Linked DNA regions of Homo sapiens. The protein of the gene in region 2 purifies or fractionates together with the protein of the main gene of each other region. This does not show direct contact. Each region holds a gene or a part of one and is shown on either strand. Other genes may lie near its edges. The genes, in order: PPFIA1, CTNNAL1 and NPTN.

The links.
Region 1: the proteins of CTNNAL1 (region 2) and PPFIA1 purify together in Homo sapiens (tandem affinity purification; one study listed by IntAct). This does not show direct contact.
Region 3: the proteins of CTNNAL1 (region 2) and NPTN purify together in Homo sapiens (co-immunoprecipitation; one large-scale study listed by IntAct). This does not show direct contact.

What each region holds. Positions count from the first base shown.
Region 1 is NC_000011.10:70,273,548-70,277,199, forward strand, and holds part of PPFIA1 (liprin-alpha-1), read left to right. Parts: intron 1-3,652. UniProt on the Homo sapiens protein: May regulate the disassembly of focal adhesions. May localize receptor-like tyrosine phosphatases type 2A at specific sites on the plasma membrane, possibly regulating their interaction with the extracellular environment and their association with substrates.
Region 2 is NC_000009.12:108,992,971-108,996,622, reverse strand, and holds part of CTNNAL1 (alpha-catulin), read left to right. Parts: intron 1-1,631; exon of another isoform or gene 1,632-1,715; intron 1,716-3,652. UniProt on the Homo sapiens protein: May modulate the Rho pathway signaling by providing a scaffold for the Lbc Rho guanine nucleotide exchange factor (ARHGEF1).
Region 3 is NC_000015.10:73,595,337-73,598,988, reverse strand, and holds part of NPTN (neuroplastin isoform b precursor), read left to right. Parts: intron 1-1,619; coding exon 1,620-1,967; intron 1,968-3,652. UniProt on the Homo sapiens protein: Probable homophilic and heterophilic cell adhesion molecule involved in long term potentiation at hippocampal excitatory synapses through activation of p38MAPK. May also regulate neurite outgrowth by activating the FGFR1 signaling pathway.

The DNA.
Region 1 (3,652 bases), on a different chromosome or scaffold from region 2:
GCATGATGGGTCTGCAGTGATAAATTAGTAAATGAATAAGTACTAGCCTTAATGTGTTTCTTGGCTGTAGTCAGTTCTCCTGAAAGATTGATAAGCCAAACGTGGGTTTCCTTTTTAGCAACAATAATTTGACGTTAGCGCTCTATGTTCCTTTTTTGTTGGATTAAAGAATCATTAAGATTTTTCTTATTTCAATCTTATAAATTACCAAGTTTATTTATGTTGAATTTTATTACTACAATTTTAAAAGAAGTAGCCAATTTATGTTTTACCAGGATTTTATTGTATTTGTAATTTAAGGTACACGTATTGAAGTGTATATCAAATACTAATATACTTAATAAGGTAGGTTTTGGAAAGAATGGGCACACAAGACATGTCAGGGAAGTGACAGGAGTTTTGTACAGTTAGTCGCAGGCTGTGGAGGTTGTCACACACACTGGTGACATGGTTGCTCAGTGATTTGTTTCTGGCACTGCTCAGTGTAGCAGCCTGGGAATGCCTAGTTCAGTGGATAACATGATGATGCCAACGGTTCACGTTACCACCTGAGCACCTGATTCCAGCCTTTCAAAAATGGAAACTATTAAGTAAACTTGTTTTGGACCCTTCCCTTTCCTGGCATCTGGTTCATCTTTGGTGGCTGGTAGTGTGACCAGATAATGAGTCCAGGAAGTGCATTTGTGCTCCTGGCACATTGTGGAGGCAAGTTAGAGTGTACTTAAAAATATACATAACTATAGCATACAGCAGAAAAATTCACAAATCGTAAGTATACATCTCAGTGGACTTTTCACAAAGTTAACACACTTGCATACCACCACCCAGATCAAGAAATGGAACATTATCAGGCTTCCTAGAAGTCCCCTCCTAACTATTCCCAGTAGTTGTCCCCCAGAGCTAACCAAGGTCTTGACCTTTCACCATTGATTACTTTTGCCTGTTCTTGACTTTGTTTAAGTGAAGTAAAATAATCTGTATGTTTTGCTTCTTCATTCTGTCGTCAGCATCATGTTTGTGAGATGCAGCTTGCTCATTCTCACCTGCTCTCTGGTCATCCCGTGCACGAACAGACAGAACTTATTCTTTCTACTGCTCACAGACATTTGGGGTTGTTTCCAGTTTTTACACGTGCTCCCCTAATATTGTTTGTTTTTTGGTGCAGATGTCTATAAACTTTTTTTTTTTTGAGATAGGGTCTCACTCTGTTGCCCAGGCTGGAGTGCAGTGGCATGATCTCGGCTCACTGTAGCCTCCACCTCCCAGGTTGAAGCGATTCTCCTGCCTCAGCCTCCCAAGTAGCTGGGAATACAGGCACGCATCACCACCCTCCGCTAATTTTTGTATTTTTTGTAGAGGTGGGGTTTTACCATGTTGCCCAGGCCGGAGGATATGTGTACACTTCTGTTGGATTTCTACAAAGAAGTGGAATGCAAATGATGGTGTGTGCATTTGTTCAGCCTCAGTAGAGAGTGCCAAAAGTGGTGGTTGTGACAGTTTGTACTACCCCAGCAATGTATGAGAAGTCAGTTGCTCCTATGCTCTTCAGCACTTGGTATTGTTGGGTCTTTACATTTTAGCTGTTCTGGTGGCTGTTAGCTGGTAGGTGGCTCAGTATGGTCTGAATTTGCTGCTCCCTGATGGCCAGGAACATGCAGAGGTAAAGCATCTCTACCTGTGTTCACTGGCCACCTGGATGTCTTTTGTGAAACGGTTATCTTTTGCCCATCTGTTGATTGGGTTGTCTGTTTTGTTTTTTACTGATTTGAAGGAGTTTTCTCTATATTCTGAGTACATATGTGCATGACAGATTGTTTTTAGACTCTTGTGTTTGCCTTTTCACTCTCTCAGTTGTATCTTTTGATACATAGAAGTGTAAAATTTTTAATGTAGCCCAGTTGATCCATCTTTTCAGTAATGTTTAATGCTCTTTGTGTCCTGTTTAAGAAATTTGCTTGGTCAAGTTCATGAGATATTCTACATTGTCTTCTAAAAACTATTTTTTAATCTTCCATCTGAAATTGACTTTGTTTATGGTATGCGATGGGGCCAAGAGTCTCTCTTTCTTTTTTTAAATGGATATCTAGTTGACCTTGCATAATTTCTTAAAAGACTATTCTTTCCCCAGTGTACTACATGCAGTGTCATCTCAGTCCAGTGACTGTAAGTGTGTGGGTCTGTTTCTGGACTCTCTTCTGCTCCTTTGATCTTTTTGTCATCTTTGCACAAATAGCACAATGTCTAAATTCCCATAGATATAGTCTGTCTTGAGATCTGGTAATTTAAGAAAAGGGTACTCACTCGGTTGCCCAGACTAGTCTCCAACTCCTGGTGTCAAGCGATCCTCTCACCTTGGTCTCCCAAAGTGCTGGGATTACCACTGTGAGCCACCACACCTGGCCCTGTAGATATTCTTTATCAAAATGTAAAAATTCTCCTCTTCTTAGTTTGCCAAGAGTTTTTTAAAAACCATGAGCAGGTATTAAATTTCTTAACATGGATTTTCTGCATCTTTTGAGACAGTCATGTGATTTTTCTGTTATGTGGGAATTTAACTGTTTTTGTTTGTTTATTTTTGAGATGGGGTCTTGCTCCATTACCCAGCCCGGAGTGCAGTGGCACCATCATAGCTCGCTGTAGCCTTGAACTCCTGGGCTAAAGTGATCTTCCCACCTCAGCCTCTCAAGTAGTTGGAATTATAGACGCACGCCACTGCGCCTTGCTTTTTTTTTTTTTTTTAATTGCATATTGTTTGTAGCCTGGGGAAGCAACTTCAGGAGCTCCTGAGAAAGAGCACCTCCCTTTTAAAAAAAATTTACAATTGTAGAATAATTCCAACCTGATCTTGATGTATTCTCCTTTTACTGGATTATATTTGGTAGTATTTTGTTTAGGATTATTGCATTTATATTCACGAGAAAGATTGACTTATAATTTCAGTTTCCTTCAGTACCCTTGTTGGGATTTGGTATCAAGGTTATGCTGGTTTCTTAAAACAAGGTGGAATGTATTCCTTCTTTTTCTACTCCCTAGAAGAGTTCCTACGAAATTTGTGTTTTCTTCCTTAAATGTTTGAAATAATTCTTTGGCAAAACCAGCTGGTACAGGGTTTTCCTTGTGAGAAGGAAAAATTTTAGAATTAATTTTATAGGTAGATGTAGGATTTTGAATATTTCTTCATGTGTCTATTTAGATAAAGCATTTTTCCCCGCTAGAGATTTGTTCAGGCCACCCAGACTTTCCAATTTGTAAGTTTAAAGTGGTTTGTAATCCTTATTATCTGCAAGATCTGTAGTGATGTTCCCTTTTAATAATTCTTGATATCAGTAATTCATATATTATCTCTTAATCAGTCTTGTTGGGGGTTTGTCAATTTTGTAAGTTCTTTTAAGGGACCAACTTTCGGCTTTACATTTTTTTCTACTTACATTTGTTTTCTATTGCATTAATTTCTACTTTTTTTTTTTTGCTTTTTTTTTGTTTGATTGAGATATATATATATATATATATATATTTTTTTTTTTCCAGGCACAGTCTCATTGTGTCTCCCAGGGTCAAGTCCTTAGATACTTGAACTGGATTTAACTCCCTCCTACCTTTTGTGTCATTGTTTTATATATTTCAGTTTAATTTATATTTATTTTTAAAAATA
Region 2 (3,652 bases):
GGCTTTGTAGCATGTCATTGTGCCCAGTGTAAGGTGAGAGAGGAGGACGTGGTACACTGACATGAGTACCATACGCCCAGGCAGCTCCATAAACGGAGTATTTTGGAAGCTGTCAGGTTTCATGGGCTCCACATGTCATCTTCCTCCTAGTGTCACTCAGGTAAGAGTATGAGAATGATGCCTTCTGGAGTTGTAAAATATAGAAGCCTTTTTTTCTCTTAACACATACAAATTTAAGACTTCATTAAATCACTCCTGTAATGTTTCTAGCCCACTCAACCCCTACGAATCATTTTCTTTGTTTGTCAACAGTGTTCATTTGAGGGAACTAATATAAAGTAGTAGATAAAAAACTGGAGCTGGCTGGGTGCAGTTGCTCACACCTGTAATCCCAACACTTGGAGGCCAAGGCGGGTGGATCGCTTGAGCTGTGTTTGAGACCAACCTGGGCAACATAATGAGTCCCTGTCTCTACAAAACATAAGAAAAAAAAATAGCCAGGTGTGGTGGTGCGTGCCTCCAGTCCCAGCTACTTGGGAGGCTGAGATGGGAGGATTTTTTGAGCCCAAGGAGGTTGAGGTTGCAGTGAGCAGTGATGGTGCCACTGCACTCCAGCCTGGGAGATGACAGAGAGAGACCCTGTCTCAAAAAAAAAAACACTAAAGTCTTAGGGTCAGATTGCCTAGACTTTAATCCTAGTGCTTCTACTTGCAAGCAGGGTATATTGGGCAATCTATTAAACATTTCTAAACCTCAGTGTTCTCATCTATAAAATGAGACTGTTAGGGTTTATAGAGGTGTTTTGATATAATGCATCTATCATTTCACACATAGTAAGTGCTCAATAAATATTAGTTGTTATTATTATAATTAATTTTTATTCTTACTTCCCTGTGTTGAACTCTTACATTGTATTGTTGCTTTTTACTTGGCTACCAGGCAAGGTTTATATTTATGTTTTATATGGAAGTTCAACAAATATTTGTGTTTGATTGACCTTGGGTTTTCCTATTAAGGCACAGCACTAGTAATGACATATAATAAATTAAAAATGATACCTGTGAAGCTGTAAGACAGCTTTGTTACTTTTTTAGGGAACTGATTTCTGAACAGTTTACACTTTGAACAACTTTATAATGTTAAGAAAGCATTTGCCCATGTTGGTGGAGCCAACCAAATGTTACTGTCCCACGTACTTATGAGTTAAATGCCTGGGGTCTAGTCAGAAAAAGGAAAGGTTGAATAATGCCATATGTGCAGGCTTATATGTCGTATCCTTTGTGGTTGAGAGGTGTAGAAAAAAATTAACATTTTCCAGAGGATCAGAGGAAACATTTTTATCCTTTTAGCTATTAATGATAGGATGCAAACTGATACTTTTCCTCCTGCCCTTTCTGTATGCCTTAAGGTTAATTCTAAGCACTTTTGTTCTCTGTTCTTTGCTATGAAAACTCTGTATTAGCTACCTATTTCTGTGTAACAAATTAACCCAAACTTAGCAACTTAAAACCACAAACATTTACTATGTCAGTTTTTGAGAGGGCACCAATCAGGGAGTGGCTTCACTGGGTGGCTCAGGGTCAGTGTGTCTCATGAGGTAGCGGTCAGTGTGTTGACCAGGCCTCTGTTACCTGGAAGCTTGAGTGCACTGCAGGTCTGCTTCCAGCCTCCCTCTCATGGTTGTTGGCAGGCTTCACTTCCTTGCTGGCTGTTGGCTGGAGGCCTCACTTCCTCTCCACGTAGTTATCTGTGTAGTAAGGGCTGCTTATGACATGGCAACTGGCTTCTCTCAGAGAGAGAGAGCAACCCAGACAGCTGCCTCAGTTATTTTAGAACCTAAGCTTGGGAGTGACATACCACCACTTCCACCATACCAACCCTGGTATGATGTGGGAGGGGACAGACAGCACAAGGTTGTCAATAACAGTAGGTGGGGATCATGGGGAGCGATCTTGAAGGCTGGCTACCACAGAATTCCTCTATCTGTAGAGCTTCAGCTATTGTCATTATACACAAGACATCCAAGTCTGCATTACCAGTCCATGTCTTGCGACTTATCTTTGGTGTATTCCTGTGTTATTTCAAACTCCTGTTGTCTGACAGTAAAATTATCATCTCTCTTCCAATGCCCTTCGATTTTCTTTAAGCAACTTAGGTTTACAACTTTGAGGCCATTTTTTTACTCGTTCTTTCCTTCTTATCATTGGTCAGGTACTAATTTTGTGTTTTCTTAATGTTTCCCAAATCATCTTCTTAATGTTCCTATGGCTACTATACTAGTAAGGTCCCTACTATTTCACACCCACAATTGATACAATAGCCTGGCTCTAAGTCTTTCCTTTCCATTCTATTTTATGTACTCCTACTAGACTGATCTTTCTTTTTTTTTTTTGAGACCAAGTCTCACTCTGTCACCCAGGCTGAAGTGCAGTGGCGCCATCTCAGCTGACTGCAACCTCCGCTTCCCAGGTCCAAGCGATTCTCTGCCTCAGCCTCCTGAGTAGCTGGGATTACAGGCCCCTGCCACCACACCTGGCTAATTTTTGTATTTTTTTAGTAGAGACCGAGTTTCGCCATGTTGGCCAGGCTTGTCTTGAACTCCTGACCTCAGGTGATCCACCCGCCTCGGCCTCCTAAAGTGCTAGGATTACAGGTGTGAGCCACTGTGCCTGCCAGACTGATCTTTCCAAACCTTGACTTATACTTCACCCTGTGGCCTCTCCATTAAGATTCCAGTACTTTTTACTCAAGATCCTTAGCCTATGAGCTGACACATTATTGTGTGTATGTAATAGAATTGACAGGAGGGCTTTTGTAAGAAAATCAATCCATTAGGCACACAGGTATATTTAGGACTTTAAAAAATGATCTTGAACACTATAAGTTGGTTAAAGGTTTATTATTTTAAAAATCTTTTTAACAGTATGGAGGTTTGAAGAATATTGTAGCCTTGTATTATAATACAAGAATACTTGGATTGTTTTATTAGTAGATAATTACCATTACAGAAATCAAAAGTTTTGATAGCAACAGTGAAGAAGATAATTTTTCTAGAGGGTTGGGAGTTCAATTAATAGAATGGTTTATGCTGGGCATCATAAGAAGTTTATATAAATTCAAACTGTAGCCTAAATGAGGGCCAGCCTGTGGTTTGAATTCTCAGGAGGGAGGCTTTTGTTTTGTTTACTTTCCCCACCCAAAGTCCAGGCTGACTGACAGACAAACTTCCTTATTGTTTCTTTTTGCCTATTGACAGTTCTTTCCGGGCCCCCATTATATTGAAGATGTCATCCCTTGGGGCCTAAAGCCCTGTCTTTTTTCTCTCTCTGAGGATCCGTGAAAACCCAAGGGTGAAAACCCAAGGCCGTTCAGCTTGTGGAGATTGGCAGTGACCCCTGACTTCTCCCCGGCCTCGCCCCAGCCCAAGCCTTGGCACCTGCTTACTGCTCGGGTTTTAGGGTATTCTTTGGTTTTTGACTCATGGGATTTCTCTTACTGTCTTGTAGGGCAGGAGGCTTTTAGATTGTGTAGTTTGCATTACCACTGGAAACAAAAATTATGATGTTTTTCAAACTGGGTGAGGGCAAAATTTGTCACAGTTCTTAAGAGTGTGCTATTATTTTCTGGTTAGAAAGCTTCGTATGATAATCCC
Region 3 (3,652 bases), on a different chromosome or scaffold from region 2:
TTGAAAGACTAGTATGAATTTGGAGGTCTTGGCCTCTACTTGAGTAAGTATAGTACCTCCATTAATGTTCTTAGTCCATGGTGTGGGGTTATCACCAAAGGCAAATACTGCTATGGATGTAAACAGGAATTTTTCCACTTAGTAACCTCCATTTTCAGCTAGCCCTGTTAACATCCTTGGCTTCTGGACTGTAGGAAAACAGTTCCATTTATTTCATCCTTTCCTCTGGAATGTTCTTAATTTGATGTTGGCAGATCCTGACCTCACTCCCTGCTTACTGCACAGGGGCTGGCTTGGCTTATGCAGCAGGCCTCCCAGGGGACGTTTCCAAGCCAATCAGAATGCCCTCTTTTAGTGTCTCTCTTTATACCTTCGGATACTGTCTGAATCAGTAGAAATGCTGAATGAACCCTAGGTGGGGTGGAAGGGTAAGAGAGAGTATGCTTGCACTCTGATTTTGTTTCCTATGGACCTAACTCCAAGTTTTTAAACTAAGCCTGGATTTTTTTTTTTTTTAACTCTTTCTGCCATTTCCACCTTGTCTTATGGAAGTGTAACCTCAAGCAAATTATGGGCAATTAGAGGTAGGCATCAACTTTAGTTCCTGGGCAGTTCCTAAGAGTGTTGGTTGAGGCCTGGCTTTCACCCTAGTGTTTAGTTTAATTCATCAGGGTACATTTCTCATTCTTCTGAGCTGGCTTCTAGAAGCCAGGCAATTCAACTGTATGGAGCCTGTCAAATACCATAGCTTTTCAGATTTTTCTAGGTAATGGATCTATGGGGTTATGGAGGGCACAGTCCCTCCATTAGCTGGCAGTGAGTTGGGTTGCTGGTATTGTTGGTCCCACTTCTGAGCTGACCCACAAAGTATTAATATCTCACTGTGGTGTGAAGTACAGACTGTCTTGTTCTCCTGAGGGTCTGCATTCAGGAAGAGGCTGCCTAACGCTAAACAACTGGGTTGTTTGTTTGCCATAGGCCCAGGGAAGAATAGGAGGTGGAGAAAGTCTAATCGAACCCAGGATAGAATCCTGTGTGAGAGAGAAATTTGCTACTCTTTCAGTTGAAATTTGAACTCTGAATCCCAAGAGAAGGCACCAGTAGGTCATTTAATACTTCTTGTTGAGGCTTGCAAAAGACACTGCATTTCTAACAAAGCGTTTGCCCATCCAAAAGAGAGATCCTGATTTGGCATATAAAACTACTGCCTCTTCTGGTTATCTTTCATCACTTGCCTGAGTTTAAAAAGGTAATAAATGGTTTGTGTTCTAAGGAAAGAGGCTCTTCCCAAGACCTGAGGCTTTCTCATTCCTACCAGCTGGGCCCATTGCTAAAATGCTTTCCAGTGGGCTTGCTTCTGCCTGGCCAGCACCTGGGCTGCCCCAGCTTGTAATTAGCCTGCCTTTGCTTCATAAGCTTCCCAGGGTGTGGTTCTTCTTCTAAAAGCTTGTATGAATTGCTGTACTGTCTCTTTATAGTTTAAAAATGAATCCTTTTTTGTTCTTTGCAACTCATTTGCTTTTTTCTTTTCTTTTCTTTAAATTACTATTAACACCTGTTGATTCTTTTTTTTTTTTCTGATTGGCCTGTCACTGCATTCCTGCTCCCCCTCCCTCTAGCTGGGTTTGTCAAGTCGCCCATGTCAGAAACTAAGCTCACGGGGGACGCCTTTGAGCTGTACTGTGACGTGGTCGGGAGCCCCACGCCAGAGATCCAGTGGTGGTACGCAGAAGTCAACCGGGCAGAGTCTTTCAGACAGCTGTGGGACGGTGCTCGGAAGCGCCGTGTCACCGTAAACACCGCCTACGGGTCAAACGGCGTGAGTGTGCTGAGAATAACCCGGCTCACCTTGGAGGACTCTGGGACTTACGAGTGCAGGGCCAGCAACGACCCCAAGAGGAATGACTTGAGGCAAAACCCCTCCATAACATGGATTCGAGCCCAGGCCACCATAAGCGTCCTTCAGAGTGAGTCCAGCACCCTACAGTAGTAGTACTGTAGTCATTAGAGGTGGCCCAATGACCCTTCCCTTCTGCATCCTTTCCCTCTTCCCCAGTATGATCACTCACCCCACCCCTTGTCTTCGTTTTTTTTTCAATCCCATGACCCTTCTGGTTGTAGTGTATGAAAACATCTGTGGCAACTTTTTTTCTTCTTTTCTTTGCCGTTCTCTCTGCCTCCCTTATCCCCCAACCCTTCTCTGTGTCTTTCTTCTCAGGAACAAAGAACTTGAGGAAATCCGTGACTGTCCAAAATCATCTGTGTTGGGAAGAGTTGGGGAGGGAGAACTGGGAAGCTTAAATTAAAACTCATAAAACCAGGCAGTCCAAGGAGGGTAGTGTTGAAATGGTTTTCCCTCCCCTTTGATTTTGTAGTAGGTTTCCTGCTATACTTTTGCTGATTTCTTCTCTGGTGCCTTTCTATTTTTGTTTCTCTCCCCAGTCTAACTACTTTTTATTTCTTCTGTTCTTCTGTTTGAAGCTCTCTAAGTAGCTGCCTTCACCTCTATGGTTTTAAGTTTGTGTCTGCCCAGCCTCTTCCTTTAACTGTGACTTGGTGTCATCTTGTTGTGATGGGAATGTTGCCATGGGTGCAGTGTGGTGGTGTGTTTTGGTTGTTGGGTGGCATGTAAGCTTGGATATTTTCATAGTTCCAGCTCTTTTTCTTTTCTAAAACCGTGGCATGTGCTTCTCTGATAACAGCCCTCTACTGCAGCAGTGTACTCCTCACTGGGCCTGCTAATTAGTCTCCTCTTTAAAAGCAGCAGCCTGGGACTTCCTTCTTATGTTTTGCTGTTAGGAGCCAGGTGACACTAAGCTGCAAATTATTATTTTTTTAGCCCATCACACTGTTTGGAAGTCAGAGTTGCAGTTGATTCCTGTTCACGGTTTGACTCTGATGAGTAGCTGTTGGCACAGTGTACCTTATCCCAGAGCATGGGAACTCCAGACATAGTGTGGGGACCACTCACACTGGCCTTTTCTTTGTGTCTTGAAAAAAGAGGAAACTAACTTCCAACCTGGTTTCTCATAGTGATGGGGTGAGCTGACCAGCTGGCTCAGAATCCTCTCCTTGTAGCAGGTATGCGTGAGACATATGACACCGGGACTTTTGTGGCCACTTCTCTCTCTTTCTTGAAAGTGACTTGCTACCTTATGTTGAGAAGCAGAGAGAGGGAGAAGCCACCACAGAACCAACGTTCCTGGCCAAGAAGAGTTCTGGCCCCACATCAAACCTGGTTATAATTGAGGGGACATTCACTTTTGGAAAGATCCTCTGGGTTTTTCACCTTCTCTTTGAGGACACAATGAGAGATCTATAGCCAGTTCCAGCTTAAAGAGCTGATTGATCTAGAGAAAGTAAGAATAGTAAAATCTTACTTTGATGAGGAATTTGGTAATAACATAAAGTAGTAAGACATGGGCCTTGAGTCTATATACTTAGATGGAAAATAGCAAATTAGTGTCTGTTCTTTGTAGCCACTTGAAGATCCTATGGGTAAAAAAAGAGTCCTTTGTAGGGCAGTGGTAGGAGAGGCTGCTGCAGTTGGCACTGTTGAATCAAAGAACCTGCTTCTGGAAAGAGGAAAAGAAAACCTTGTCTATGTGAAAATGGGGAACATTAACCCAGTGATTTTTTTTTTAACAATATT